6 separate regions of the Homo sapiens genome follow, and regions 2, 3, 4, 5 and 6 are each reported to be linked to region 1. The links are microRNA targets in miRTarBase. Many come from high-throughput screens and were not tested one by one. Region 1 holds a microRNA gene; each other region holds the end of a gene's coding sequence.
The links. The annotated mature microRNA hsa-miR-6893-5p reads CAGGCAGGUGUAGGGUGGAGC and lies in region 1 at 2,425-2,445, opposite strand. An mRNA with a match to its seed (bases 2 to 7 or 8) in the 3' UTR can be bound and repressed. Matches are read on the target gene's strand: a 7mer-m8 pairs with bases 2 to 8, a 7mer-A1 pairs with bases 2 to 7 and ends in A, and an 8mer does both.

Region 2: the mRNA of SOX11 is a reported target of hsa-miR-6893-5p. Seed matches in the 3' UTR shown: 7mer-m8 at 2,755-2,761.
Region 3: the mRNA of CFL2 is a reported target of hsa-miR-6893-5p. Seed matches in the 3' UTR shown: 7mer-m8 at 4,025-4,031.
Region 4: the mRNA of HOXC11 is a reported target of hsa-miR-6893-5p. Seed matches in the 3' UTR shown: 7mer-m8 at 4,046-4,052.
Region 5: the mRNA of FLCN is a reported target of hsa-miR-6893-5p. Seed matches in the 3' UTR shown: 8mer at 4,143-4,150 and 7mer-m8 at 3,197-3,203.
Region 6: miRTarBase lists RAB36 as a target of hsa-miR-6893-5p. Seed matches in the 3' UTR shown: 7mer-m8 at 2,038-2,044, 7mer-m8 at 2,356-2,362, 7mer-m8 at 2,847-2,853 and 7mer-m8 at 4,312-4,318.

What each region holds. Positions count from the first base shown.
Region 1 is chr8:144,433,170-144,438,240 of GRCh38, forward strand. It overlaps MIR6893 (microRNA 6893), which reads right to left and starts at 2,450; the gene lies at 2,382-2,450. TONSL (tonsoku like, DNA repair protein) reads right to left here. Exons shown (of 26, transcript NM_013432.5): 14 at 3,858-3,930; 15 at 3,588-3,751; 16 at 3,389-3,512; 17 at 2,489-3,249; 18 at 2,305-2,381; 19 at 1,848-2,001; 20 at 1,642-1,720; 21 at 809-1,110; 22 at 419-590. It overlaps TONSL-AS1 (TONSL antisense RNA 1), which reads left to right and starts at 1,999. Exons shown (of 6, transcript NR_109770.1): 1 at 1,999-2,271; 2 at 3,582-3,826; 3 at 4,530-4,577; 4 at 5,059-5,071.
Region 2 is chr2:5,693,156-5,698,226 of GRCh38, forward strand. It overlaps SOX11 (SRY-box transcription factor 11), which reads left to right. Exons shown (of 1, transcript NM_003108.4): 1 at 1-5,071. The coding sequence ends at 892. Among named protein-coding and RNA genes, the nearest start is that of SOX11, 3.3 kb to the left of the region's middle. RefSeq lists silencers at 3,452-3,541, 3,832-4,001.
Region 3 is chr14:34,708,390-34,713,460 of GRCh38, forward strand. CFL2 (cofilin 2) reads right to left here. Exons shown (of 4, transcript NM_138638.5): 2 at 4,865-5,071; 3 at 4,671-4,747; 4 at 724-4,588. The coding sequence ends at 4,476. Among named protein-coding and RNA genes, the nearest start is that of CFL2, 3.7 kb to the right of the region's middle.
Region 4 is chr12:53,974,880-53,979,950 of GRCh38, reverse strand. HOXC11 (homeobox C11) reads right to left here. Exons shown (of 2, transcript NM_014212.4): 2 at 2,308-4,770. The coding sequence ends at 4,538. HOTAIR (HOX transcript antisense RNA) reads left to right here and starts at 4,997. Exons shown (of 7, transcript NR_186241.1): 1 at 4,997-5,053. RefSeq lists enhancers at 521-1,035, 4,525-4,674, 5,005-5,071.
Region 5 is chr17:17,209,492-17,214,562 of GRCh38, forward strand. It overlaps FLCN (folliculin), which reads right to left. Exons shown (of 14, transcript NM_144997.7): 14 at 2,721-4,365. The coding sequence ends at 4,164. Among named protein-coding and RNA genes, the nearest start is that of PLD6, 5.7 kb to the left of the region's middle.
Region 6 is chr22:23,160,984-23,166,054 of GRCh38, forward strand. RAB36 (RAB36, member RAS oncogene family) reads left to right here. Exons shown (of 11, transcript NM_004914.5): 10 at 1-15; 11 at 517-4,680. The coding sequence ends at 581. It also overlaps a transcript of RSPH14 not described here. Among named protein-coding and RNA genes, the nearest start is that of BCR, 17 kb to the right of the region's middle.

The DNA of each region.
Region 1 (5,071 bases):
TCCCGGGTTCATGCCATTCTCCTGCCTCAGCCTCCTGCGTAGCTGGGACTACAGGCACCGGCCACCACGCCCAGCTAATTGTATTTTTAATAGAGACGGCGTTTCACCGTGTTAGCCAGGATGGTCTCGATATCCTGACCTCGTGATCTGCCCGCCTTGGCCTCCCAAAGTGCTGGGATTACAGGCGTGAGCCACTGCGCCCGGCCTAGACGCTTTTTTCTTAAGGGATGGGGTCTCACTATGTGGGCCAGGCTTTCCTGGAACTCTTGGCTCAAGCGATACTCCCGCCTCAGCCTCTCAAGTAGCTGGGACCACAGGTGTTGCCCCTGTGTGCCCAGCCTGGGCCCCCTCTGAAAGTCCTGGAAACCCTCAATGCCCCAGGGCTAGGGAGTGGACAGGGAGTGCCTGGTCAGCTCACCTTGGAAAGCACTACCCAGTGCTGTCTGGTGGCTCAGAAAGAAGCTGGGGCCGAAGCCACACGCCTGCAGGCGCAGGGTGCTGAGTAAGGGGCAGGCGTGCAGGAGGGAGGCCAGGGACTGGCCACAGCCGTCCCCCAGGGGGTTCATGCTTAAGTCCAGCTCCTCCAAACTCTGTGGAAGACACAGGCTGGCAGTGAGCCCCCAGCAGTCCCACGGACAGGGTCCCCCTTGGGGCTTGGCTTGGCAGTCTCTTCCCCACCTTGCCTGGCATAGCCTATTACAGCCGGGCACTGGCTGGCTCTCCCAACTACCCTAGACCACCCAGGGACCTGCAGAATGGGAACCCCAACTCCCCGCTGTTGAGGGCCTGCTGCTCTCTGTGCCTATACCTGCAAGGTGGCTTGGCCTGGGAGCCCCATGGCAAGCTGGCGCAGGCCTTCGGGACCCAGGTGATTGGAGGAGAGGTCAAGGAGGGCCAGGCTGGGCATGGTGCCCAGGGCAGCCACCAGCTCAGCCACACACTTGTCCCCCAGCCGGTTCCCTGCCAGGCGCAGCTCCCGGAGTGCTGTGTGCAGCTTGAGGGCCCGCAGCAGGGGTGTAAGCTGGGCCTGGTCCAGGGCCAGGGAGCAGGCGCTGAACGAGAGGCCCAAGCCCTGGAGCTCCACGGCCTGCAGCACCTGTTGGTGCTCCCCTGCGGGAGGGATGTGATGTCACCAGGGTAAGGCCGGCCCTTTCTGCCCTCTGAATCCCAGAGGGCAAACCAGGCAGCCCCTTTTCAACAGCCCCAGGGGTCACCCACCAGACTTGCTGTAGAGCCCACTCGCACATGCCTGTGGGTCTAGCACTGTGAGGCCCTGGGGGCCGGGGTGGGTCTGCAGCACCCTGAGCTCCACCAGTCACTGCCAGATTCCACACCCCCCGGGACAAGCTTTCTGGGAAGCTTCCCCAGCAGCTCCCAGCCCATGCCAGGCCCTCCTCCTTGGGTTTGACTTTCCAGGCTTTCGGCTGCTTTTTGCCATCTCCCTGTCAGCAGATCATGGGGGCTGAGGGCTGTCCTCTCCCTTCCACCCACACATCCAAGTGCAGGACACAGCACCCACCAGGCTGGGGGAGGTGCACCCCAAAACACCCGAGGCCCAGGAATGAACCGGGCTGGTGGAGCCTGTGTGCCCAACCCCCTTGTACGACCTCACCCAGAAACTGCAGCTCTCCTGGCCCTCACCTTGCCCCAGGCTCTGGCAGGCCCTGCGGTAGCGGTCAGTCAACGGGGGCAGGTCCCACGAAGTCACCTCAGCCAACACCTGGAAGGCACCGTCATGAGCCACCTGGGGGCTCCCCCGGCTCACCTCATCATTGCTCTGCAGCCATGAGCCACCCGGGGGCTCCCGGTGCCTGAGGCCCTGGCTCCCCCTCCGCTCTGCGGCTCACCTCGTCATTGCTCTGCAGCACATCAGGGATGAGGTCCTGTGGGGCCAGCAGGGCCCCCTCTTTCCGTAGGGTGAGCCTGGGCAGCAGCCCGCAGGTCTGGTAGTAGCGCTGGGCCGCCTGCTCGGCCAGCCAGGCCACAGAGTGGGTGTCACTGCTGCAGGGACAGAGGCGCTGCTGCTGCTGCCTGCACACAGCCGGGGTAATGCCCCAGGGACCCGCCATCCCTGCCCAGGGCCAGAAGCCCCCTCAGCTGCTTCTCCCATTCCCAGGTAGCCGGCCCCTCCTCTCCCTGCAGCCCAGCACACCACCAGCCCCTCTGCTATTCCTGGGGGCCACAGGATCCTCCTGGAACACACCAGGGAGCCCTCGTCACACGCCCCACCCTGACATGCAAACACGAGCACCCTGGCATGGAGCTGCACAGGTGGGCTGCGGGGTAGGGCAGGCGATGCCTCACCTGTGTGGGACAGGGATGAGGAAGAGATGATCCTGAACTTGAACTCGAACCCGGATGGGAGGGGGCGGGGCCGGACCCTGGCAGGTGAAGGCAGCAGGGCTGAGTCAGGAGCCACAGTGGGCTCCACCCTACACCTGCCTGCCCGGAGTGGGGAGAGGGCTCTGCTCCAGGTCTGCATACCCACCAAGGGCTGGCCTGCCGCAGAGCTGTCCCCACTGGGCTCTGAGACCCTGGGGGTGCTGGGGCTCCCTGGAGGTTCTGAAGCCAGGCTGCTGGGCCCTGCGTTAACTGGCGCACTGCAACTCTGCATGCAGGTCAGGCGGACCTGCTTGGCTCGGGCACGGGGCCTGCTCTCCTCACTGTCCGACCCAGAGGTACTACTGGGCCTGCGGTTGTCTCCAGTGCCCCGGGGGCGGGGCCGGCGGCTGCGGGTCAGGGGCATGTCCAGCTCCAGCCAGTCCCCGGCCAGGCACTCCTCCTCCGGGATGAGCGCTGCCTGGGGGGCAAGGGCTTTGCTGTGGCCCCGCGGTGGGCCAGGCCCCAGCCGGCTCTGAGCACTGCCCACACCCCGGATGGCTGCCTGGTAGGCTGCCCGGCTGGTGCTGGCTGTGGCTGCTTCCCTGTTGCTGGCGGGGCCAGGCGTCCAGGCTGCCACCCGTTGTGCTGTGGCCGAGCACCGAGGCCTCTTCTGGGACGGCCGTGCGGGGCCTGCGCTGTCCTCGCCTTCTGAGCTGCTGCTGCTGCTGGCTGGCCCATGCCTGCTCCTCCGAGGCCTGGCCATGGCTGGTGCCGCCTGCCCTGGGGAGACCCTGACATGGGCCTGAGAGGCCTCTGGGAGTCTAGTGCTATTAGAGGGGGGTTCTGGGCAGGGGCTCAAAGGAGGAGAGGTCTCGGGGTCAAACAGAAGGCTGCTTGGGGTGTGGAAGGCCTGGGAGCTGTGGGGATCTGTGGGAGAGAGAATGCGTGTTGAGGCAGGGGCCCGGCACCTCCCGCTCCACCTGTGATGGAGCATCTCCCGAAATCAGGGCCCGGGGACTCTCAGCGTAGGCACAGCAACCCCAGGGACAAGGGACGCCCTGCTTGCCTTGGCCCGAGGCAGCCGCCTGGAGCAGCATCTCCATGGCCCTGGCCTTCTGCCGCGTCTCCAGGTCCAGGTCCCTGCGGTACAGCTTCACCCACTGCTGCAGCGTCTCCAGCGGGCTGAGGCCCTGTGTGGCATCAGTTGAGCAGGGGCACAGCAGCCCCCATAACCTCGCCCTTGCCCTCTGCCCCACCAGGCTCACCTTTCGAGTGCGGAGGGTGACGGACGCCCCCCGTTCAAGCAGCAGCTCAGCCACCTCGAAGTGGCCACAGTTGAGGGCATCGTGGAGGGGGGTGATGCCTTCGCAGCCCTGGCCACCTGGGTCGTCCACTGCGGCCCCGTGGTCCAGCAGGAAGCGGACAATTTCTGCAGACCAGGAGACGTAAGCCCAGCTCCCGATGCCCCGCCAGGACTGACTCTTCGCCCCACGTGTCCACCAAGGTGCGCCAGGCTCCTTCTGTCCCTTGCTCACCTAGATGCCCGTAGTTGCAGGCCTCGTGCAGAGGTGTCCAGCCACAGTAGTCCCGAGGGTTAAGGGGGTGGCCCTGTGACCAAGGACAGGAAGGAGCCTGGCCCTGTGTACCTCACAGCCTGGCCCCAGCCCCGTGAGCTCTGCAGCCTAAGCTGAGCCCAGGGCCTCAGTCTTAGAGCCCAGAGCAAGTCCGTGGCCCTGCCCTCTCCTCCTCCGGCCTAGGTGTCACCAGTGAAGGACATGCTTCCCCCTGAGACAGGTGGACCAGCCACAGCATATCCTCCGCCTCTGTGCCTGCCCGGTCCCCTTGTGGGGAGACAGTGCACCTGGTCGCAGGGGCATGAGGCAGGCGGGGCGGGAAGGTGCCCAGATCTCAGCCCATGGGCTAGCCCCCATCCTGGCCAGGCTGACCAACTTAGCTGTAACACAGATGCATACCACACAGCAGGTACCCCATTTTTTTTTTGAGACCAGCCAGGCTGGTCTCAAGCTCCTGACCTCGTGATCTGCCCACCTTGGCCTCCCAAAGTGCTGGGATTACAGGTATGAACCACCGCGCCCAGCCTGGGCACCCCATTTTTTTGTGTTTTTTTTTGAGACAGAGTCTCGCTCTGTCACCCAGGCTGGAGTGCAGCGGCGCAATCTCATCTCACCGCAACCTCCGCCTCCCAGGTTCAAGCGATTCTCCTGCCTCAGCCTCCCGAGTAGCTGGGACTACAGGTATGTGCCACCATACCCAGCTAATATTTTTGTATTTTTAGTAGAGACAGGGTTTCACCATGTTAGCCAGACTGGTCTCAAACTCCTGACCTCAGGCAATCCGCCCGCCTCAGCCTCCCAAAGTGCTAGGATTATAGACATAAGCCACTGTACCCGGCCTGTGGCTTTTCTTCTGAGACAGGGTCTTGCTCTGTCACACAGGTTGGAGTGCAGTGGCAAGATCATGGCTCACTGCAGCCTCCACCTCCTAGGCTCAAGCAACCCTCCCACCTCAACCTCCAAAGCAGCTGAGACTACAGGCACACGCCATCACATCCACCTAATTTTTAAATTTCTTGGAGACAAGGTCTTGCCAGGGTGCCCAGGCTGGTCTCGAACTCCTGGGCTCATGTGATCTGCCTGCCTTGGCATCCCAAAGTGCTGGGATTACAGGCATAAGCCACCCCGTGCAGCCTCCGCTTTTTAAATTTTTTTGAAACAGGGTCTCACTGTGT
Region 2 (5,071 bases), not on the chromosome of region 1:
CGGCGGCGGGAGCGCGGGCGGAGGCGCGGGCGGTGCCAAGACCTCCAAGGGCTCCAGCAAGAAATGCGGCAAGCTCAAGGCCCCCGCGGCCGCGGGCGCCAAGGCGGGCGCGGGCAAGGCGGCCCAGTCCGGGGACTACGGGGGCGCGGGCGACGACTACGTGCTGGGCAGCCTGCGCGTGAGCGGCTCGGGCGGCGGCGGCGCGGGCAAGACGGTCAAGTGCGTGTTTCTGGATGAGGACGACGACGACGACGACGACGACGACGAGCTGCAGCTGCAGATCAAACAGGAGCCGGACGAGGAGGACGAGGAACCACCGCACCAGCAGCTCCTGCAGCCGCCGGGGCAGCAGCCGTCGCAGCTGCTGAGACGCTACAACGTCGCCAAAGTGCCCGCCAGCCCTACGCTGAGCAGCTCGGCGGAGTCCCCCGAGGGAGCGAGCCTCTACGACGAGGTGCGGGCCGGCGCGACCTCGGGCGCCGGGGGCGGCAGCCGCCTCTACTACAGCTTCAAGAACATCACCAAGCAGCACCCGCCGCCGCTCGCGCAGCCCGCGCTGTCGCCCGCGTCCTCGCGCTCGGTGTCCACCTCCTCGTCCAGCAGCAGCGGCAGCAGCAGCGGCAGCAGCGGCGAGGACGCCGACGACCTGATGTTCGACCTGAGCTTGAATTTCTCTCAAAGCGCGCACAGCGCCAGCGAGCAGCAGCTGGGGGGCGGCGCGGCGGCCGGGAACCTGTCCCTGTCGCTGGTGGATAAGGATTTGGATTCGTTCAGCGAGGGCAGCCTGGGCTCCCACTTCGAGTTCCCCGACTACTGCACGCCGGAGCTGAGCGAGATGATCGCGGGGGACTGGCTGGAGGCGAACTTCTCCGACCTGGTGTTCACATATTGAAAGGCGCCCGCTGCTCGCTCTTTCTCTCGGAGGGTGCAGAGCTGGGTTCCTTGGGAGGAAGTTGTAGTGGTGATGATGATGATGATAATGATGATGATGATGGTGGTGTTGATGGTGGCGGTGGTAGGGTGGAGGGGAGAGAAGAAGATGCTGATGATATTGATAAGATGTCGTGACGCAAAGAAATTGGAAAACATGATGAAAATTTTGGTGGAGTTAAAGTGAAATGAGTAGTTTTTAAACATTTTTCCTGTCCTTTTTTTGTCCCCCCTCCCTTCCTTTATCGTGTCTCAAGGTAGTTGCATACCTAGTCTGGAGTTGTGATTATTTTCCCAAAAAATGTGTTTTTGTAATTACTATTTCTTTTTCCTGAAATTCGTGATTGCAACAAAGGCAGAGGGGGCGGGGCGGGGGAGGGGAGGTAGGACCCGCTCCGGAAGGCGCTGTTTGAAGCTTGTCGGTCTTTGAAGTCTGGAAGACGTCTGCAGAGGACCCTTTTGGCAGCACAACTGTTACTCTAGGGAGTTGGTGGAGATATTTTTTTTTCTTAAGAGAACTTAAAGAACTGGTGATTTTTTTTTAACAAAAAAAGGGACCATTGCAACTTTTGTTAATTTAATTTTTTTTTTTTTTTTTTTTTTTTTTTTTTTTGGAGGGAGAAAACTGATGTCTTCTATGCATCCGATTCTTAACAAAACTGCAGGGAGCTTGAAAAAATGCAGACTGTACAAACGCTTACAAAAAAAAAAACTGTGAACTGACTTAAGATCAGAGTTTACTTTTCAGATCAAATTGTTTATGGTTTTACAAATGTGATTTCTACTTGCCAACTTTTTTTTTGTAACTTGTTCCCTTATACCTCCTTGATTGAATACCAGACAGCCTAGACCTCAGTACAAAAGGTATTGAAACATTTTTGATACATAACAGACCTCAGTCTTTTTTAAAAATTAATATATTTTCAGGCGTATTTTTGTACAGTGAAAAGGGAACATTCTTGCTGTGTTTTTTCAGTAAGACTTTCAGGCACTTCTTCCCTTTTGATTTCTTTTTTTTCCTCTGTTTTTTAGCATGCAAGTATGTTGGTACGTTATGTCCTGGTTTAAAAAGGATTAAAATTTTAAAATAATCCTTGCATCTAAAGGCCTTGTGGTTTAAAAAAAAAAAGCAAACTTTTTTTTGTACAGCTATAGTAGAGATTTGTTCAATATTTGTAGGTAAAGATTTATTGAAAATGGTGATATAGACCTCAGAGCTGTTATCTTAGTTTAAAGATTGTATATGTACTGTACTATAGTAGGACTTTATGTATCTCATACGCTGTGATGTGGATGGGGCCCCAGATGGAAGGTTTGAAACTGGATTCTCGATTTTTAGCAAAAAAGAAAAAAAAAAGGCACATAGTTTAAAAAGTTTCTCATTTTGTGCAATATAATCTAAATAAAGTACAGACCATCTGCATATTTTGTAGCAAATGGTGGCAAAGCAGACTCAATGCACTGTCGACATCATTGCCTGTTTTTTTTTTTTTTTTTTTGTGCTGGAAGTCTGTATCTTGACAATTTTAATAAATCAGCTGGAACTGATAGAAACTCGCATCGCCAATAGTCTCTATGGAAGTCAAACTGGAGGTCCTGTTGTCGCAGAGCATTCGGTGGTGAGGCTGTTGTGTGCGCGGATGAGGGGAGGTGGCAGGAGAGAATTCTACATTTAGGGGGTTAGGCTGAAAAGTGTTCAATTAGCAGGCTGATTTCTTTTTCCTCTTCCGCTAGTTGTGAAAGACAGGGGAAGGGTGTTCTTTCTCTCTGCCCTCCCTTTCCATCTCCAGCTCCCCATTTCCTTTCTCACCTCCTCCTCCACTCCCTGCCTCTTCTCCCCACCCATCCTGGCGGGCGGGCTGCGCGGAGGCTCGGGAGCTGGCCGGGGAGGGGCGGATGGAGGGGCCTGGGTTGCCAGCTCCCTTGGTCGGGGTCCTGCTCGCTGGGGCTTGTGTGTTCTCTGCGGCGGGCCGCGTCCCCGCTGAGCCTCGCGGTGACAGCCGCCTTTGGCAGCGAGCGCTCGGGGCACTTCTATCCCCGCCTCTCAAAGGGTGGGGACAGCCGTTTCCAGATTTGAATTTTTTCTGTTCTTTATTTTTAACGCTGCATCTTCGCGTGTGCTCAGAGGTGGTTGTTGGCGGAGAACGCCGCCGCAGTGTTTGACCTCTAGCGGTGAAGGGGGAAGGGGAAGAGGAAAGGAGAGAAGTGGTCGGTGTCTGTTTCCTTCTGTCCCCCGGGGCCGTGGAGCTGTCGGAGGGAAGGAGGACGGTGCGGGGCCGCAGGGGGCGCGGGGCGCGGCGGGACCCAGGCTACGAGCGGGAGGGAGGCGGGAGTCGGGGGAAGACGCGGCAGGCCGGCCGAGGGCACCCCGAGGAACATGGCATGGCCTCTGTGCGATCCGAGTCGCGGTCTCCGGGGTGCCTGGGAGGGCCGAACCACTGGTGAGGGCGTGGGGAGCAGGGGGTGGCAGAGGGCACCCGGGCGGTAGTCCGGGACGCGCAAGGCAGAGCCCTGACGCTCCGGGTCCCCGTGCCTGGCTCTTCTTGCCTCGCCACCGCGTGCTCCTGGGCGCGCCCCGCCGCGGGCCCTTGAGGCGCGCGGAGACACCAGCGCTGGCTTCCCGGGCCCGCGGGCCGGGGAGGGAAGCCTCGGGGCTGCGGGGTGAGAGGAAGAAAGCAAACCCGGGGAGCAGGCGGCTGCCGCACCCGCGCACCCCGGGCCCTCACCACGCCCTCCCCGCGCGCCGGCTCAGGGGCTGCCCCGGAATCAGCTCCCCGGGGCCGCCGCAACGAAGGTGGATCCGCATCTTGATTGTTCTCCGGGAGCCTCCTGGGGGCTCCGGCGGCGGCGCGGGCGCGACCCATCCCGCTGGCGCTCCCCGCTCGCTGAACCCCGTTTGCCTGTCCACACCCCCTCGCTCCCCACCATTTTTCCTGACCGGCCTGTGTCCCCGAGCCCTCGCGGCAGGCCCGAGCAGGCGATCGCGGCCGGGCACGCGCGCCCCGGGCTCCCGCCCCCCTTCCGAGCATCCGCCGCCTCTTTTCTGCTGGGTCTGGGAGGAGGGAGGCTGGGAGGCCGCTCGGGGCCCAGCGTGCCAGCCCCGGAGTTCAGCCTCCCGAGCTGCGGCGCCCGCAGCGGAGGAGGTTTTCAGTGGCTGATTGAAACTCACTGCAAAATCACCACGACTCTTTCACCTACTGAGATGATTGACCGAGGTTTGGCCTTCCATTTTTACTGAGATTTGGCGAGACCGAATGGAAGCGTCCGCACAGTAACTGCAGCTGCTAGGCCAGAGGGGCCCCGGCGCCCTTCCCGCCTCCCCTCCCGCTTGCTTTTGCCTTACTCGATCTTACCACCACCCCTCCCCCGGCCCCCCGACTGAGAACTCGGGCCTCTCACCCGCCCCCCAGCCTCCCGCTCTGGGCGAGCCTCCTCCCCAGCCCCCACCCCTGGGATGCGAAGCCAGCAAGCTTTTGCTGCAGATGGACAGGTTTCTTTTCTGTGGCTTTTTCCTTTCGATAAACCATCAGATTTCAGTAGTACATTTGGGAAAAGAAGGGGCTGATGGCGTTAACCAGGTTCTCAATATAGAACTGGATTTCTGGAGTTGTTTACCTTACCCCACACCCCCTCAACATGTAGACTAATGCAGCCATTGGTGGTACATTTATTTTAGCCACGGATAATTGAACCAGCGGTTTACAATTGACACGTGCTCCGTGCTGGTGATTTTATGTGGCAGCCCTCTGCTGCAGTTCCGAAACTTGTTGGCAACGTAAACCCATTGATAGGCTGATCTATGTATTTTGAAAGCCTGAAAACTTGGCATGTCTTTTCTGTTTTAATCATAGATGAATCTTGGACATTTTCTGTGGTGAGGTGGAAACTTTAAGTAAATTAGTAAAGTAATAATTTGGCTTCAGAATGGGAAGAGATAGTCAAGATTTTTTTTTTTTAAAGCCATGTGGCCTAACTTGATACAAAAATAAAAGTAATTGTTTGGCAATCTAAATTTAAAACCTGTTAGAACTCAGGACAGGCGCTTCAATGCGCTTTTTAACAATATTTAAGGCTGTTTTGATGAGTGCGTTGTGAGAATCATCTTAATGAATTCTTTATTGAGTGTCTAAAACATAGTATA
Region 3 (5,071 bases), not on the chromosome of region 1:
ATACACACTAAATAGGCTCAGCCCAGTGGTTCACACCTATAATCCCAGTGCTTTGGGAAGTTGAGATGGGTGGATTGCTTAAGGCCAGGAATTCAAGACTAGCCTAGACAACACAGTGAGACCCCGTCTCAACAATTTTTTTTTTTTTAAATTAGCTGGGCAGGCCGGGCATGGTGGCTCATGCCTGTAATCCCAGCACTTTGGGAGGCTGAGGCAGGCAGATCACCTGAGGTCAGGAGTTTGAGACCAGCCTGGCCAACATGGTGAAATCCCATCTGTATTAAAAATACAAAAATTAGCCAGGTGTGGTGGCATATGCCTGTAGTCCCAGCTATTCGGGAGGCTGAGGCAGGAGAATTGCTTGAACCCAGGAGGCAGAGGTTGCAGTGAGCCGAGATCACACCACCGCCCTCCAGCGTGGGTGATACAGTGAGACTTTGTCTCAAAAAAAAAAAAAAAAAAAAAATTAGCTGGGCATGGTGGTGTATGTCTATAATCCCAGCTGCTCAGGAGCTTGAGGTGGGAGGATCACTTGAGCCCAGGAGTTCAAGGTTATATTGAGCTATGATTGTGCCACTGCACAGCAGCCTGGGCAATAGAGTGAAACCCTGTCCAAAAAAGAAGAAAAAAATGTGTGTGTATGTGTGTATATATACATATATATATACATATATATATGTACACACACGGAAGTTACAAAAATAGAGGTTCAATGATCTGTAATACATCTTTTAACAAAAACATTTAATATTTATCTACTTACATACAGTAATTAAGAATGAATAGTTTAAACAGATTATTGCATTTACATAGCATTTTCCTGTTTTCAAAAACCATTTCCATATTTAGTACTCAGGAAACATGGTAAACAGATATTACCGTTCCCATACTATGGGTTAAAAAACTGAGATTTAGAGATTTAATTTGCCAAATTGCATTATGAGAGGAAATTTAAGTGGAGGGATGATTCCTCTACTTCTACATGGAAATAAAGCAATTAGTTGGATGTTCCAGAGCAAAAGAAAAGCCTCAGACTTCTTTATGGGCTGAAAGGAGACAGAACATCCATAAACTCATGCTGTCTTCAAAAGCAGTATTTGAGCTTTTGAAGTGGTGGCTCATGCATGCAATCCTAGCACTTTTGGGAGGCGGAGGTCAGAGGACAGCTTGAGCCCAGGAGTTGGAGATCAGCCTAGGCAACATGGCCAAACTCAGTCTCTACAAAAGAGATACAAAAAAAAAAAAAAAAAAAATTAGGCATGGTGGTGCATGCCTGTAGTCCCAGCTACTTGGGAGGCTGAGGTGGGAGGATCATCTGAGCTGGGAAGGTTGAGTTTGAAGTGAGCTGAAATTTTGACACTGCACTCCAGCCTGGGCAACAGAGTGAGACCCTGTCTCAAAAAAAAAAAAAAAAAAAGGCAACATTTACTGGGACCTGCCTGCCCACCTCTAGTAGCTTTAATACTATTCATAAAAAAATGAACATTCACGTTGTTTTGCATCTCCACCTACTATTAAATGTGCAAGCAAAAACAGGACCTATGAAGAGCAAAATGAGACTGTTTTTTCTGAGTGGCAAACCTAAGAGTCTTCTCAACCTCTTGATGATTTACCATTGTTGAGATTATTCCTTAACAAGAAAACACTTTTAAAAGAATTTCCTCCCAAAGCTTATTTGCCAGATTCCATAAATTAGCTGCTACAAATGTTCTGTATCAGAGAAACTCAAACCCAGTAAGAGGCTTCTCTTCCAATGTACGAAAAAGGCACATTTCAATACACAATGCTGGCCACACTATTTTAGATAATGATGGAAAACAACAGCTGATAGCCAGTTTGGGACACATGCCAACTGTTCCCATTTGTCTGAAAATGCTAAAATTAATTGCTGTAACACTCAGTTTTTAAAGAAAATTGTTATTGATAAATGAGAAAGTATTACCAACTAAAATCCTGAAAAACAGAATAAAGATAATGATGCCTCTTTGATCTGAAATACCAGTTTTTAAACTTTTAATGTTCTGAAGTATAAGTAAACACATCTCAACAGCTTTACATATTTTCATATATTTTATTTTTTAAACTCTCATAACTTTGCAAGCTAGCAGTAAAATATTGCCTTCAATATTTTACTAATTAGCACCGTATACCTTTTAAAGCTAACTGGAACATTGATTCATTATAAATGATTGTAAAATAAAATGATCATTTCAAATGCCAAATTAATCTCAAATAACAAGTGAACTATTATTAATTTTATCTCTTTTTTTGGCTCTACGCACAAAGATGTATTTCAAAGATGAACTTAATTATATTAGTATCAGTTTTGTCAATCTAGCAAATCAAAGTATCACAGTTTAAAGCAATATTTAATCTCTGAAATTACTAGAGGCATACAAGAAAGTTAAGGAATCAGCTACAAAAACAAAAGATACTACATAACTGATTTATAGTCCCTTATTTTTTAAAAGAATGAGGAAATAACTCAATGAAAAATTCCATGGTGCCAAGTATCAGTTACACATATGGTTAAGTATACGTCAGTATTCTCTGTTTTGCTTATCAGAGTTTGGCCTTACCAAAAACCATCGAAATGTCCAGGATAACTCACAGGGACAGCTGGAAGCCTGAAATAAAATTGCTCAGTGCAAAAAGATCCCAAACCATTCATATAATTTTAAATGGAAGCCTAGACATTTAATCCCTATTTTTAATGTTCACATCTGAAAAATCTTTCAAAAATATGGAAAAAATCTAATTATACTAAAATTACTTCCACACATTCAAAAAAAATTTTTAAGGGATATTTTCTTTCCTGTTTTCTGCTAAAAGCATTCCTCTGAGCTATGGGGTTAAGTTCTGAGCCACGACTGACTGCTTACTAGCATGCCTGTTTTGCATACCAGTAGAATCAAGTCCAGTTTTGCCATTTGTGGATAACTATGACAAGATACAAAAGCATGTGTTTGCCATAAATAGCCCTGGCTAACAGCAAACCGCTCACACTGAGCAGATCAAATTCTCTATAAGGAGCACAGTCTGGACCATAGCCAAATCCCACTACTAATGTTTAAGACTGCTATTATCAATTCCTATTCCAATTCAATTTGCAAAATATATTCAGAAATAGTAGGTGAAATGACTGTTCCGAAACATCAGAAGTATCATTAAACTTTTAAAGGACATTTTACAAATTATTTTCATTACGACCAAATAAGCAATAAGAGCTTCCTGCTTCTACTATACAACTACTTAGAAATGTAAATGTGAATAAAAAAATAACTATGCTAATTTATCCAGAGAACAAATCAGATATTGAAAAGTATTTATGCCAAAGTGCAAAAAATAATTTCTGATCTTCATATTAACACATAGGAAATAAATACACTAATGTTTATAAAAGTACCATTCTTTAACAATGGTATTTTATATTAGTTGGCCTTAAGATAGAATACTTTTTAAACCAAATAGATCCAACAAATCTGGAAAATATCACACATGAATGCTGTACAAAAAAAATTCTCAAATGACCAGTGCAGAGATTAGTAATAGCTGTTTTTACCCTAGAAGTTGTTTCACATAACATTTTGCAAAATTTCCAAGGAAAACAAGGCAACGTTCTGTAATATGCCACAATTTTTATTGCAACGTGGCCATTTTTGTGAGGGTGGGGAGTTTGATCTCAAAACAATGTTCCATTTAAGGCTCTTTTATACAGAAATTGCCATCATGACTGATATTCAAAATATCTTTAGTGTTGCAGGACTCACATGGTAAACATAAAACTCCTACACTTATTCAGTAGTGTACACTCAATGGAAAACAAAAAGGCATTAATAACAGCTATTTCTTTTAAGAAGATATGCAGGTAACAGGAATGAACACTGAGGTACTAGGATAAGTTGATGACACAGTTAACAAAACTTAATTGGCATTCCTTTTAGGATATTAAACTTATTACAAAAAGTGCTTTTAATGCATAGTGTTATATCCGTGCTGCCATATCACTAAAATAGGCTTGCCAAGGCAGGTGAGGTGTATGAATGCTCAAGCCTCACAGAACTGCAATCAAGTGCCAACTATAAATAATACTGAAAAAAGTTGACCATCTGACCAGTGGATAATACTTTCAAGGCATTCAATTAGCTTATCCTTTGCAGTATTCTAAGCTATTCACATTGACGATCACATACATTGTAGTGCTTGCTGCAAGGGAGGCATATAACCAGTTGTTTTGGCTAAAATATGACAGGAAGGCATTCCTTGGGTTCTATATAAAAGTAACAGTATTCAACAGTCTAATGGCAATCACTGATAGGCTGCTTAAATAAATGATATTTCCTTCATTCATTGTGTTGGAAGGGCCCAGTGGAAAGGGGGAAATACAACAAAAAACCAAAACCTAATACTATTCCAATGGACTGAGCTGGAGAAATGGAAGCTCCTTAAGATCCAGATGGCACTTGACTGTCATTTTATAATGGTTTTCCTTCAAGTGAAACTACTACATTGCCTCCCAATTTCTCTCCAAGTGTCGAACGGTCCTTAATATCATCCAAGCCATTTACTTGCCACTCATGTTTAATACCTAAAAAGAAAAAACATTATCCTATTACTTTATTATAATTAATAAAGAATAATTTCTCTGCCCCAAATATTCAAGTTTGTACCTGTAAATTTCTTTTTAATGGCATCTTTAGAGCTAGCATAAATCATCTTGCTTTTTAAAGGTGCACTTTCAGGAGCCCTACAGAAAAAAAAAAAATTATTGAATCCCATTTATAAGAAAAACAAAGGTAAGACTGACTATGATAATAATAATCCTTGCATTTTAAAAGTACTTTTTTCTTTTGTTTTTACACACCAGAATATAAATACTAGGTCTTCTTTCTTAGACTCTTTTGTTTCGTATGTGGCATCGTACAAAGCATATCGGCAATCATTCAGAGGTAGCAACTTCACAAAAGATGTGTAGGGGTCCTCTACAGTATCACCAATGTCACCCACCAAGATCTGCTTTGCTTCCTCTACAATTATTTGTCTTTTGTCATCGCTTAAACAGAAGAGAACT
Region 4 (5,071 bases), not on the chromosome of region 1:
CTTTGTTCTCTGCTCCTGGACTGCAGCCCTGCTGGGCCCTCTGTCTCCTTTGGTCCTGCAACCACTGCAACCTCTGGGCAGGAGTTTCCTGGTATTTTGGATTCTTTCTTCAAACCCATTGTCGACTTCACAGGCGGCAGGCAGGAAGGCAGGGCTATGTGTGCAGAGACCCTCCCAAATCAGCAGTCTGAGTCAAGGTTATGGGTCTTTGCTTTGTGCAGTGGGTTGGAGGGGTGCGGTGCAGAGAGATGTGTGTGTGTGTGTGTGTGTGTGTGTGTGTGTGTGTGTGTGTGTGGAGAGAGAGGGAGAGAGAGAGAGTAGTGCCTACAGGAGAACAAGAGGGTGTGATGGGGGAAGGTCTTGTCATGCTGATATTGTCCAAACTTTTAGAGTTTGTAAAGGTGCAAGAGCAGAGTGGACAGGACTCTGTCCAAAGAGGCTCCAAAGCTGAGTCCAAGATGGGCTTTAGGAAGGATTGACTCAGATCTTCAAGCCTTTTTGCCTTAGACAGAGAAAGGCAGCTCCATACACTCCCTTCCCTGCACTGCCACCCCTCAGAGCCCCTCTCTCCCCTGCCTTTCAAAGACCTGTGATTTCATCCTATGGCAAGACCAAAACTTACTTTTTTTTTTTTAAGGGATGGGGAATCTTGTAAAATTTTTATGCCAAACAAAGTTATAAAAACTTCCTGGGCGTTGCCTTTTCCAAAGGTTTATATGAATAATAAAGAGTGCAGTCGCGTGCACTGGTTCTGGCGGGCTCTCAGTAGGGAGGGGTTAGCAAACAGCATTATCCAACCCTGGGGCACCAGAAAACCCCAGTAGCTCCCCCCTTCAGGGAATACTGGCCCAGAAACAATTGCCCTACGGATTCCTGAGAGAGGCGGGGAAAGCGAAGGGGTGGTGCCCTTGACTCCCTTGAAGTTCAAAGTTCTTCTTTACTCTTAAGAGAAGAGCCCTTTCTGCTCTCAGCCCACTCGAGAAATTAGCCCAAGGTAGTTTCTCCCCTTCTGGTTGAGAACTGGCTCTAGGTATTCCCAACTCTGTTCACCTTTCAGACACCTGGTTTGCACCTTTTGCTCCCCCAGAACAGGGCTCCCCAATCTTTCCATCTGGGACAACTAGAGCCAGGGAGTTTTCTCTCAGAGGTGCTTGGCAGGGGTTTCGAGTCTTCTTACAAGGGGCCCTTGCATCGCCATTCCTCAGCCACCTAAGAGTCTAAGTGACAAAGAAACCCCAAACTCAAGGCTACTCCTAAACCCATTTCTCATTTCGAGTGCCCTTGATTCCTCCTGCACCCCAAAGCCCATGGTGGAAGGGGGAGGGGCCCAGAGTGCTCTCTCAGCCCACACCACTTAATACCCTTGTAAACTCCCACGTGCACTATAAACTTGGATTTTTACAACCAGCATTCCTCCTTAGCTCCGGGAAACTTTGAACTCGGCCTCAGGTTTATTTACTGGGGCGGGGGGGTGGGGTGGGCGCGGCGGGGAGGAAAGGGGCTGGGGTGCTGGGAGCTGAGAAAGGCTGGAGAAAAGAGGAAAAATGTGGGGCAACGGGCTGAGGAGGTGGGGGTCTGAGTGTGTTGGGAGAGCCAAGACCCTCCACTACAGGTTTGTTTACTATTTAGGGCGGAAGTGGTTTCTAATACAGGCCAGACTGGGTCGTTAAGGTCGAAATGAAACTGGGTTTAGAAACGTGAGGGGGTGCTTTATGGCAGCGTCTAGACGAGGATCTTTTGTTCCCGGGCAGTGCTGCGGCTAGAGGGGATTACCCCAAGAGGTTGAGCCCAGAGTGCCCCTGACCTGCAAGGGGGGTTGGACACCTTGGGAGACGGAAGGTGGGTTTGTTTGGGGGCCAAAAAACCCTTTTTCCTCCTTTTTAGAGGGTCACCAAGGACTGGCAGATTCCTGGCTTGGGTCACAGAAGCCTTTGTTTTTCTTTCATGATGACCTTCTCCTCTCATCCACCAGAACTCTCTTTTGGAGCTGAGGACATTTCTGGGCTCCACATTGCAGAGAAAGTGTTACCTGCGGGTTTTAAATATTTTTCTCCAAAATCAGGCATTTGGAGGCTAATATTTTGCTTTATAAATAGGTTCACCTTATAGAGTTTCCTCTATCCTAATTTCACAGGAAACATCACCAGCAGGCTAATATTTCCTAATGTGGCTAGTGGATAAACATCATACCTAGAGAAGTGTCACACACACATACACACACAAAAATGTACAGAGGCCCCTCAGTTGCATTCCTGCCCACACTCAACAAACACTGCCAATGGTTACACACCACAGAGACACAAGCTCTAGATGTGTATGTGGTCAGGTTTACTCCATGCAACAGACAAAAGCATATAAATAATATTCCTTCTTATGTGCACCCATAGGCACACCGAGTTAAATAAAACGTTTGTGTGTGGGCACATGAGGGAATTGTGGGCTGCATATACACCCTAGTTTGCAAATCTTGTCTCACGACCCGACCCACGTTTACAAATTAGAAATTTAGATACCTAAGCTGCAGGGATTCCTACCATCAAAAATGACAGAACCTAGATTTGATAGTCATGATGCTTTTTCCTTTCATCCAACAGAATTGTATTGACAAAAATATTTTCTTTGAATTATACAAAGACAGAAAGAGGAGGGAAAGATGAGATGAGTTGTCCTGAACCTCTGCCCCCAAATAACGAATTTGAAACAGAGACCAACGAAGTGCCCTCACTGAAAGCACTGCAAGGGCCATGATTATCTTTATACAGAAGAAACATGCAGCAAATATAGATGGGTATGGTGACTGTCCCCGCAGGTCATCTCCATCCCCAGTGCCAACCCCTACAAAACAAACCTCTGGGGCTTTCTACTGTGGGACACCCAATGTATAAACATCAGGGTGGCCCCAGTATAGGCGTCTTGTTGTGTCTGGAAGAGCCTGGCCATTTGTGCCAGAGGGAAAGCAGCCAGGCCCCACCTTCCCACCCCCAGGAGCTGTGGAGAGGAGAGGGAGGGGGCTGGTTTCTCCTTCTGTCCCCTCCTTCCTTAAAAACAGTGTATAAAAATTCCAATACAGATTTCTCCTAGAGAAAAAAAAAAAAAAGCCCTAACCTCCACACTACACATTTAACTGCGACAGACGGAGACATCTGGCAGAAGGGCGGTGGAGCCAAAAAAATTCCTATAAATTTAAATTCGATGATGGTTACAATTAACTCCACAACAAACGTGTACTTAAACAGAAAGCCGTTGCTGGGCGTTTGGACACAGCTCGAGCTGCACGTGAGAAAGGAGAGCTTCAGAGTAGCTATGGAATGTCCTCAGCTTGAGAATGTGAGGAGACTACGGCCATACTCTTGGCCCTGCCAGCGGAGAGGAGCTCCAGGCCGGCTAGCACCGGCCTATCTCACCTCTGCCTGCCTGTCCTCACCCGCTGGGCTCTGCCTGCCTGCCTCCTCCTCCTCCGCCGCTGCCATGGGAGCATGGAGGATTTTAAGAGGAGAGGGGTTAATAAAAGGGTCAAATAAAATCATAATATTGAACAGAATGAAATTTATCTTTATTTGCCACCAAAAAAATTTCACAGCAATCCCTCTGGGAAGGGAGCAGGGTGGGGAGTGCACATGTACACACGCACTCACGCAGAGGAGTAGAGATGCGTGATTTGAATCTCACTGGGGGCGTCCCCCCCTTTCCCTCCAGGTGGAAAGAAACGCTTGGGAAATTTATTTACAAAAATCCAGGCCCCAGCACGGGGGAGGTGCCCAATCCCATCTCCCTACTGCCTCCACCACCCCAATCTTCAATTTTCTTAAAAAAAAAAAAAAAAGAGGTAACGACTGCATAGACTATAGCTATAAATCCATGAAGTGGGGCACTGCTTGGAAAAAGATGTGGAAACCTCAATGCACCGATTAAGAAATTTCAAAGGAAGGTTCTACACATTCAGGGGGAGAACAACTAGGCTCGGGCGGGGCCTTGGCGAAGACGGAGGTAGGACACGGACTTTGCACACCTAACACCAGGTTGAAGGTACAGAAATTTCACAGCAAGGCAGGATCACATTTAGCTGCAAGGTGGGGCGGGGTAGAGGGGGGAGCTCGAGAAGTTTCCGCTGGCAGACATGCTGTCTTAGCGGATCTTTTCACATGGGCAAGGGAAGGCTTTTAGTTCGAGGATTGTTCGGCTCAGGCGCTCACTACTGTCGCCCCTCCCCCACCTAATCCGAGCAGCAAGACATTGTCGCCGAGGTGTGTTTTCTTTTAAATCAAAGTCTTGGCCTCGGCGCCAACGGTGTTCACTCGCCGTGCATCAGACACTTCCCTTCACCCCCTTTCCAGGCCCGGTCCCTGTCCCACAGCGAGAGTCAGATAGAGGGTCCAGGAGGTTCCGGAATGGAGTGCCGGCCACAGCGGTGGGGGCCAGCCCTGGCCACAGTCCAGTTTTCCACCGGCGGAAAGAAGACGAGTTAGAAAATAAAAAATAAAAATAAAATAAAATAATTTTCCCCTCCCCCCGCCCCCAAAAGGGCCCGGTCTGCAGGTTACAGCAGAGGATTTCCCGAGAAATACTGCAGCCGGTCTCTGCTCAGTTTCTTTTCTTTCATCCTTCTGTTCTGAAACCAAATTTTCACTTGTCGGTCCGTCAGGTTCAGCATCCGGGACAGCTGCAGCCGCTTCTCTTTGTTGATATACACGTTGAAGAAAAACTCTCGCTCCAGTTCCCGGATCTGGAATTTCGAATAAGGGCAGCGCTTCTTGCGGGTGCGGGGGGCGTCTGGAGGGAGGGGAGGGGGCAAGTGCGAGGAGAGGGGGGAGAGAGACACGTGAGACCCGGGCGACCCCAGCCCGCTGAGCGCTCAGCGGCCCTTCTCCTAGCCCACCGCGGGCAGCCCTCCCGCCAGGCGGCTGGCTCTCCTGCAGCCGCAGCACCCGGGCAAGCCTCGACCCCCTGCCAGGTCTAGCGGGTCCCCACCCCCCCGCCACTGCGCCACCCCGTCCCCAGTTCTCAGGCGAGAGCCGCGGCTGACAGGGTCTGGGACAGAAGGAAAGCCCTCCAGGTACACGTGCGTCCCCTC
Region 5 (5,071 bases), not on the chromosome of region 1:
CAGGTTCACGCCATTCTCCTGCCTCAGCCTCCCAAGTAGCTGGGACTACAGGTGCCCGCCACCACGCCCAGCTAATTTTTCGTATTTTTAGTAGAGATGGGGTTTCACTATGTTAGCCAGGATGGTCTCGATCTCCTGACCTCACTATCTGCCCTCCTCGGCCTCCCAAAGTGCTGGGATTACAGGCGTGAGCCACCGTGCCCGGCCTAGTTTTTTATTCATTTATTTTTCAGATGGAGTCTTGCTCTGTCAGCAGTGACGTGATCTTGGCTCACGGCAACCTCCGTCTCCCAGATTCAAGCAATTCTCCTGCCTCAGCCTCCAGAGTAGCTGGGATTACAGGCACCCACCACCACGCCCGGCTAATTTTTGTATGTTTAGTGGAGACGGGGTTTCACCATGTTGGCCAGGCTGGTCTCGAACACCTCACATCAGGTGATCCGCCCACCTTGGCCTCCCAAAGTGCTGGGATTACAGGTGTGAGCCACCGTGCCTGGCCGTTTGTGTTTATTTTTTATTTTTTGAGACAGAGTCTCGCTTTGCTGCCCAGACAGGAGTGCCATGGGGCCATCTCAGCTCACTGCAACCTCCACCTCCCTGGTTCAAGCGATTCTCCTGCCTCAGCCTCCTGAGCAGCTGGGATTACAGGTGCCTGACACCACGCCTAGCTAATTTTTGTACTTTTAGTAGAGATGGGAGTTCACCATGTTGGCCAGGCTGGTCTCGAACACCTGACCTCAGGTGATCCGCCCACCTTGGCCTCCCAAAGTGCTGGGATTACAGGTGTGAGCCACAGTGCCTGGCTATAATAACCATTTTAATATGTGTGTGTATGTCATTAACATCATGTCGTATACCTTAAATATATACAATTTATTTTTTAAAAGCTTATACAAACTATATTATCAGATAAGGGGTTAATTTCCACAATATATAAGAGCTCAAGTGATTCTCCTGCCTCAGCCTCCTGAGTAGCTGGGACTACAGGCGTACACCACCAGCCTGGCTAATTTTTTTTTTTGTATTTTTAGTAGAGACGGGGTTTCACCATGTTGGCCAGGCTGGTATCAAACTCCTGGGCTCAGGTGATCCTCCTGCCTCGGCCTCCCAAAGTGCTGGGATTACAGGCGTGAGCCACCATGCCCGGCCCTGAGTGTAAGTATCTTGAATGTAAAATCAGGAAACCCTTGACTGCCTTCAAACACATGGGGAAGGTTCAAGATCTGGAACTTGTTTTCTGTCTCTTCCATTTTGTGAAAAGCTACAAAATCAGGAACCCCTATTCCCTCACAAGGACAGCAGAGTCTGGCCTGGTCTTGGGCTGGCATAGGTTCAGCTCAGCCTCCTGCTCTTCTGCACTCATGACCAATAGGAAAAATCTTCAAGAACTGCATGCCTGTGGGGAGAAAAAGCCCACAGCTGCCTAGAAACACCAGTTGGCAGCTGGGTGCGGTGGCTCACCCCTCTAATTCCAGCACTTTAGGAGGCCGAGGCGGGCGGATCACGAGGTCAGGAGTTCGAGACCAGTCTGGCCAACATGATGAAACCCCATCTCTACTAAAAATACAAAAATTAGCCGGGTGTGGTGGCATGTACCTGTAATCCCAGTTACTCGGGAGGCTGAGGCTGAATTGCTTGAACCAGGGAGTCGGAGCTTGCAGTGAGCCGAGATCACACCACTGCACTACAGCCTGGCAACGGAGCAAGACTCTGTCTCAAAAAACAAAAACAAAAACAAAACCACCAGTCGGCATAGGGCCTTGCCTGCCCCCTCGCCAGCAAGCTCTGTTAGACATGGGAAATCCAGGTCACACATGCCCCTGAAGTGAATGCAGAGCTAACTTACACTGGGCTCCTACTTGCCAAGTGGATTCAGCCACTAGACTGGCAGACAACTGGCAAAAACTGAGCATAGAACCACGTTCCCAGGAATGCCATGCACGAGAGAAAGACAGGAATCTGTACCCGAAGCCGGGGAGGACAGTGGGTGGTCATCTCTCCCTTGACCCACATTGGCCAGGGGGTCCCCTCCCACTCGAGGTAGATGACTAAACCGTGAACCTGCTGTTTTAGGGATTGCCACGGTCACCCAGGGTGATTCCAGCCATCTTCCTCTCAGATGGACATGTCTTTTAAATATCATCATTATTAAGGGATGAGCCATTTCTAATGCTGAACAAAATGAAAAGCACATGGGCATAGGTACTCAACAGATGTCCTTGGGATAAATGAGTGTTTGCTTCTCTCCAACACCAACTCCAACGACTAACTTGGAGAAGATTGTCTACGATCATTATAGCAGCTTAACTGTGCGAATTGGCCACTCACTGGTATTTTGTTTTGTTTTTTGAGATGGAGTCTCACTCTGTTGCCCAGGCTGGAGTGCAGTGGTGTGATCTTGGCTCACTGCAACCTCTGCCTCCCGGGTTCAAGTGATTCTCCTGCCTCAGCTTCCTGAGTAGCTGGGACTACAGGCATCTGTCACCATGCCTGGCTAATTTTTTATATTTTTAGTACAGACAGGGTTTCACCGTATTAGCCAGGATGGTGTCGATCTCCTGACCTCGTGATCCGCCTGCCTCAGCCTCCCAAAGTGCTGAGATTACAGGCATGAGCCACTGCGCCCGGCTGACTCACTGGTATTTTTTAACCATAGTATTTCCTGTGCCTGAGCGCAAATAAATAGTAGGCATCAAACCAATAAAACCATGTAGTAACAATTTACAAAAATACATCTTTATTGTGTTCCAATGTTGTTGCATTATACAGATACCTAGTTATATAAACTTGGTCTTCATGTTAAATATAAACACAAAAAAACTAGAAACAAATCAGCAAAACCATCAGAAAATCCCTCTGAGCCATGAATCCTTATTAAAAATGTATAGTGGGGGGTACCTGTAGCTGTATGTTGAAGCAGGAGGACTGCTTGAACTCAGGAGTTCAAGACCAGCCTGGACGACATAGCAAGATGCCATCTCTTTAAAAAAAAAAAAAAAAAAAAAAAAAAGGGCCAGGCACAGTGGCTCACGCTTGTAATCCCAGCACTTTGGGAGGCTGAGGTGGGTGGATCACCTGAGGTCAGGAGTTTGAGACCAGCCCGGCCAACACGGTGAAACCCCGTCTCTACTAAAAAATACAAAAATTAGCTGGGCATAGTGGCGGGCACCTGTAGTTCCAGCTACTCTGGAGGCTGAGGCAGGAGAATTGCTTGAACCCAGGAGGCAGAGGTTGCAGTGAGCCAAGATCGTGCCATTGCACTCCAGCCTGGGCAACAAGAGTGAAACTCCCTCTCAAAAAAAAAAGTACAGTGGGATGATGAAATTGTCTTCAATCACCACACTCCGAAAATAGTTAACTGTAACCAAACGTAAATGTTGAAAGCAGCAATAAAGACAAAAGCGATACAGAATAAAAGCATGGCGGGGCTCACCATATCCAGGGGATTGGGCAAGTCAGATGCTTGCCGACCCCTCAGCAACCTGTCTTGTGCAAAAATGATCAGGGACTCCATCATTAAGCCCCAGGTTACCTTCACCAGCACCTGCAGGGGAACACCCCAGAAGACGAGCCCCATGGCTTCAGAACACACATTTCAGAGGACCAAAAGATGAGGAAGAGATCCACTTCACTCCCCAAAGTCTCTTGCGGAGCCCTAACTCAATCACTCAGTGACCAAGAGCTGGCAATGTACTGAATATTCACAACTGCAGCAAAAGGTACCCTCAAACATAAGGCCCAGAAACTCTTGCTGAATTTCAAAGTAGAAACGCTTGAATGTTAACCTCGGGAGCAGACATGTTATTGCGACTGCATACTGAGTCGGACCTGTTTCTCCTGCGGGTTTTGAGTCTAAGTCCACAAGGGGCCTGGGAGGCAAGCTGTCCTCCTAGTCGTCTCTCCAAGGAGTTTGAACACAGAGAGAGCCCATCATCCCTCCGCCTTTCATTGCCATCTTCAGCGATTCCAACGGCTGGAGGGAGAGTCTGGGAAGCACACAGGCCCCAAACCTGACAGGGCCGAGCCCAGCCCTGATGGTTTCCCTTCCTTGCTGGGACACAGCTCCTTCCAGCAGTTGAGAAACTCAAGGGACAGTCCCTCTCACGGGGCTGGAGGATCCTGTGGACAGCCATCCCTGTCTTTAGGCAGGTGTGTGTGACGGGTCAGTTCCGAGACTCCGAGGCTGTGGGGCTGCGGACCGTGGACATGAGGTGTGACTTGTAGGTCTTGCTCAGGCCAGTCATCCAGAACTTCAGCAGCTTGACATTGTCCTCCTCGGACGCACCCAGGATGCTCAGCAGCTTCTGTGTGTCCTCTTTGGGTCGACTGTCCACCTTGGTGAACTTAAAAAGCACCTTCACTTTGCTGAAGAAAACCAAAACAAAACACTCAGACACCACAGCACAATCCCTCGAGCCCTGGTCACGGGGCCAACCAGGGGTGACACGGCTTTGGCACCAGCAGGAGCTGTGCAGGCAGAGCTGGAATCCACACCCTTGGGGCAGCAGGCTTGGCCCCTGAACTGCTGAAAGGAGCTGTGTCCCAGCAAGGAAGGGAAGCTGTCGGGGCTGGGCTCGGCCCTCTGTCGGGTATGGGTATGGGGCCTGTGCGCTTCCCACACCCTCCCTCAAGCTGTTGTCAAGACGCCAAGAAGAAAGAAAAACCTTCCTTAAACTCGTGGAAGACACTGGTTGCTCCTAAGCTTCACTGCATGATTTTAAATCAGGACAATGTTTGATTAATAAATTTGACCCAAAAAATTACCAAGAATCGAGGCAGGAGGAAATAAAGTAAATTTGCTTACAAAAAAAAAAACCCGGGGGGCCAGGTGCAGTGGCTCACGCCTGTAATCCCAGCACTTTGGGAGGCCAAGGTGGGCGGATCACGAAGTCAGGAGTTCAAGACCAGCCTGGCCAACATGCTAAAACCCTGTCTCTACTAAAAATACAAATATTAGCCAGGCATGGTGGTGGGTGCCTGTAATCCCAGCTACTCCAGAGGCTGAGGCAGAAGAATCGCTTGAACCCGGGAGGCGGAGGTTGTGGTGAGCCAAGATCATGCCATTGCACTC
Region 6 (5,071 bases), not on the chromosome of region 1:
ATGGAGACCTAATCCGTGAGTATAGGTGTGACTGGGTTGGGCTGGGGAGTAGGCTGGAGGCCTAAAATCCACATGCGCCATCCTCGTCACCTGAGGCCTTGCCATTTCCTGAACTTGTGGCCCTCTCCTGTCCTTTGACCCTCCTCTCAGGGTGTCACTGCAGCCTCAGGCCTGTAGCCCCTCTGATTCCACCTGCCAGGTCAGACACCCTCCCTAGCCCTCCCTGTTCTCCTGACACATGGACCTCATGGGCATCCATGAGGTCCTCATAGCCCAGGCTGGGCGTCCCAGGCTCTGCAGATGTGTCCTGGCCCCGGCTCTCCCAGTCTGCACCTTTGCCCTCTCTGTTCCAGTGCCTGGAAGGCCCTCTCTTGGCTTGTGTCAGGCCATTCAGGCCTTGAACAGCAGGCCCAGAAGCTTCAGCTCACAGCTCTGACTGTCAGGGCCGGCATCCCCTGCCCAGTGTCAGCTACAGGATTCCTGGTTGATGCTAAATTACTTCTCCCCTCCTTACAGAAATGGAAGGGAGTCCGCCCGAGACCCAGGAGAGCAAGAGGCCCTCCAGCCTGGGCTGCTGCTAACTGGGGCCTGCGTGGAAGGCCTCCGCTCCCTGCACACACACGGACAGGAATTTCCGTGACTGTGGTGTGGAGACTGGAGCCCAAGCTCTGCAGCGTGTCGCCCTCAAGCTGTAGGCCCATGTTCCAGTCCCTCCACCCACCCACCGGGCTCAGCTCCAGGGCACAGTCACTTGTCCGTTGCAGGTTGGGCACTAGAAAAGGCCCCCACTGGCTGCCTGGGAGCCCCACACCACCGGGCCAGTGCAGGCACTGTGGTGATCCCATAAAAGGCCAGTCCATTTGCAGGGTCATCAGACAGTCACCTTTGGCCTCAAGAGGCCTCAGAACTGCAAACTCCTGCGTCGGTCTATACTACTCGGCCATGGCCCACATCAGCAGTCAACCCTGCACTCTTTCCCAGCGATCTTGGATGTGTCCCCAGGATCCGTCACAGTGTTCCAGGCAACCTGGACTTGTCAAAGTCAGCACCTGAAGGAGAGGCCACCTGCCATTCCCCCTGGGAGTTTTCTGTTGTCAGCAGGACTTATGGTTCTGGGTCTCAGAGCTTCAGGCCTCACTGTCCTTCTGCCACGGATGCTCAAGGTTCCTGGGCAGACCAGCACCTCTGGAGGACAATGGACAAAATGTCTCTTAGACCTGTTCTGGCTGAAGGGCTATCTCTGGCACCTCTGAGATCCCTAGGTCCTGCCCTCCTGGTCCGTGGGCCAGGATGTGCAGAACAACCACTCAGGCCTTTCTGGCCCACCTGGACAGTGCATTTACCTGTGTGCTGCGGGAGGCAGACTGCACAGCTGTCCTAGGGTAACTCACTCTGCAGCCCTTGAACATGGCACTGCCCTCCTCTGGCACTCATGCTGGGCCTGTGCCCACTGCTGCCTCTCCATCCCTCTCTCATTGGCCTATACATCTCTTAGGACCTTTGTAATGGTGTCCATGCACCTTTAGAGGACTTCAGAGGCCCTGCCAAGTCTAGCATGTTCCTGTCTCCAACACCGCCTCCTGCACATGCAGAGCAGACAGAAATACCCCACACATTCCCCAGCCTCTCTGCCCAGTATGCTCATCCACAGGGTTTTCTCACTGCTATGAACCAGCCCCACAGCCCCAGGCCCCTGTCACCTGGCTATGCCCACTCATCCCACCCGTCTCGTGCTGTTGCTTCCCGTAGATGGCGAGCACCTTGCAGGCAGCCTTCTGATCAGTACTGCTCTCCTAGGGCCTGGCACACTGCAGCTGCCCTGTAAATGTTCAGCTCAGCGATTGCCAAATACCAGTTAGGGAAGAACACTGGCATCTTTTTCTATTCATTCCCCCTTCAACATATTTTTTGTAGTTTTTTATATAAATGACTTTTTTTTTTTTTTGAGATGGAGTTTCACCCTTGTTGCCCAGGCTGGAGTGCAATGGCGTAATCTCGGCTCAGTGCAACCTCTGCCTCCCAGGTTGAAGCGATTCTCCTGCCTCAGCCTCCCAAGTAGCTGGGATTACAGGCATGCACCACCATGCCTGGCTAATTTTGTATTTTTAGTAGAGATGGGGTTTCTCCATGTTGGTCAGGCTGCTCTCGGACTCCTGATCTCAGGTGACCTGCCCACCTCGGCCTCCCGAAGTGCTGGGATTACAAGGGTGAGCCACCATGCCCGGCCATAAATGATTTTATTCATTTTTATGTTTTCTTTTGGGCGGCGGGATGGAGTCTCTGTCACCCAGGCTGGCGTGCAATGGCACGATCTTGGCTCACTGCAAGCTTCCCCTTCCGGGTTCATGCCATTCTCCTGCCTCAGCCTCCCGAGTAGCTGGGACTACAGGCACGTGTGACCATGCCGGGCTAATTTTTTATATTTTTAGTAGAGAGAGGTTTCACCGTGTTAGCCAGGATGGTCTCGATGATCTGACCTCGTGATCTGCCCGCCTCGGCCTCCCAAAGTGCTGGGATTACAGGCCTGAGCCACCGCGTCCGGCCTCCATAAATGACTTTTAAAGGGGTTGTATGTTTAGTGTGAACAAAGACAGTACAAAGCATATAAAATACAAGGTGAAAGCCCCCCCCCCGCCACATTAGCTGCGCCCCTGAAGTGTCTCCAGCAGAAGAGATGGATGAATGGAAGGACACACAGATGGACAGAGAGCAGGAAAGACTGTTAGCTCTGCTAACAGTCAGGACTATTCCTTCTGGACTCTGTGCCTTTGCCTGCACAGCTAGTGTTGATGGCTTGTTTGTTGTTTTCACCAGAGTGAGCTCCTTCTGGACATACTGCCTGGCAGCCTGCCTTCCTAGGGAGCTGGCGCCAAGGCCTCTCCCTGATGGCACACAAGGAGCCTCCTTCCTGTAGCAGCGCCCAGTTTTCATGTGGATGGATTGTAGTTCATTTGACCCTCCCCATCCGCGGGCCATCCGGCTTGTGTCCAGCTTTTAGCTCTTGCCAATGGTGCTGCAGTGGCCATTCTTGTAGTTATAGCTTTGCGTACTCAGGAAGGCCCTTCTCCCGACTGCGGCCCCCAGCCTGGTCCACTAAATGCAGCCTGTGGTCGGGCAGACAGCATTGGGGTCCATTAGGAAGACCAGGTTTGCTGGGCATAAGCTTCACAGGACGGGAGAACCTGCCCATGGTGGACTGTCGTTCTCCACAGCTCCCTTCCCTTGCCCCTTCGGGCCTCCAGGATATGTTTGCGGGGGTGGGTGTGGTGTCCAGCTGTTACCAGCTTCTGAGCTAGAGCTGTACTGCCTCACGTACACCCCCACCTCTGTAAATGGTCCTTGATTAAATCGTCCTCATATTACCTCCTGCAATGTGCCAGCTGATTCCCACACACCCTGACTGACATAGTTGTGGCCTCTCGAACTTTGATATTTGGCCTGGGAGGACAGAAGAGTAAGGTCGCCACGGAAACGCAAGGGGCTCAGTTGTCCCCCCACCCCAAGTTGATGCAGCATCTTCTCGGTCAGAATTGCTTCAGGGTGGTTTGCGCACCCTCACTTTGATGATTTAATGAAGACATTTCCTTCTTTCCCAGCATCGGGCAGTAAGTTTCCTGGGCAGAGGCACTTTCTGTTGGTCTGGTCTTGTGGGCCCAGGCAAGCAGCCCCCTGCAGCCAAGGTGCGGCAATGACCACAGTGACCGCGTCCAAGTGCTGCCGAAACGCCTTTTTCCTCTTCCCTGTTTCCCTGGACCCTTTCCTGCTCTCTGTCCATCTGTGTGTCCTTCCGTTCACCTGTCTCTTCTGCTGGAGACACGTACCTGAAGCAGGTCCTCTCCTGTCACTTCCTGGCTCCCCAGGGCTAGGTCCCAGGGTGCTCTCGCTCTGGCTTTCGAGGCTCCTCACCACCCAGCCCACCCCACCCCCACAGGCCCCTGTGCTCCAGTTTCATCCCTGGTCACAATGCAGTCTGCAGATGCCAGACCCCTCTTCTGTGCCCAACGGCTGGGACACCCCTACTCCCAGAGAGGCCTCTGTGGACACCCCCACAGCTCTCGCAGCACTTGATACCTTGAGTGTGATTGGTCACATCTGGGCTTTCTCCCCCACCCATCTGTGGAACCCCAAGAGCCAGGACAGTGACCTCATCACCTCTACTGTCTCCCCTAGCACCTCTGGGAGGAAGGGCCCACAGTAGGTGCTCAATAGATGTGTAAAGAAGGCAGGGAAGCAAGAAGGTTGCTCAAACAAGACCATGTTCCCAGCAGACAGATTGCACTCTGACCCAGATGCCACCACACGAAACTTACACCTGCCTGGGGAACAATCCTGTGCTTGGCTCTCCTTGGTGGCCAGGGACAGTTGTGCCTCATCCCTCACTTGCAAACCCCAGTCCTGTCTGACCCAGAGACCCTCACAGGGCATCAGCCAGTGAAGGCGGTTTGGGGCTGGAGGATATGTTCTGATCTTGGGAAGAGCTTGGTAGGAGCCAGCCACAGAAAGTTTCAGGGCAGAACTGAACAGGTCTCGGGAAGGACACTTCATGCCAGCTAGAGAGGCTCTGGGCACAGGAAAGAATTGGACTTCGGGCAGAAAAATGTTTGTGCTATTTAGTACTATGTAACAAATCACTCCAAAACTTCATTGCTTAAAGCAACAAGCATGTATTATTTCTCATGATTCTATGATTTGACCAGCTATTCTTCCGCTCCCTGCTTGGTAGCTGGGCCACTAGGATGACTCTCCCAGAGTCCAAAATGGCCTCCCTCATATGAGTGGCAGGTGGTGTGGCTCTACCTGAATGCTTGGCAGGGCCTTGCCACATGGCAGCTTGGGCTTCCTCACAGTGTGGTGGCTGGTTTCTAAAAAGGACTGTTTCCAGGCTGGGCACAGTGGCTCATGCCTGTAATCCCAGCACTTTGGGAGGCCAAGGCGGGCGGATCACGAGGTCAGGAGATAGAGACCATCCTGGCTAACATGGTGAAACCCTGTCTCTACTAAAAATACAAAAAATTAGCCAGGCATGGTGGCACGCACCTGTAGTCCCAGCTACTTGGGAGGCTGAGGCAGG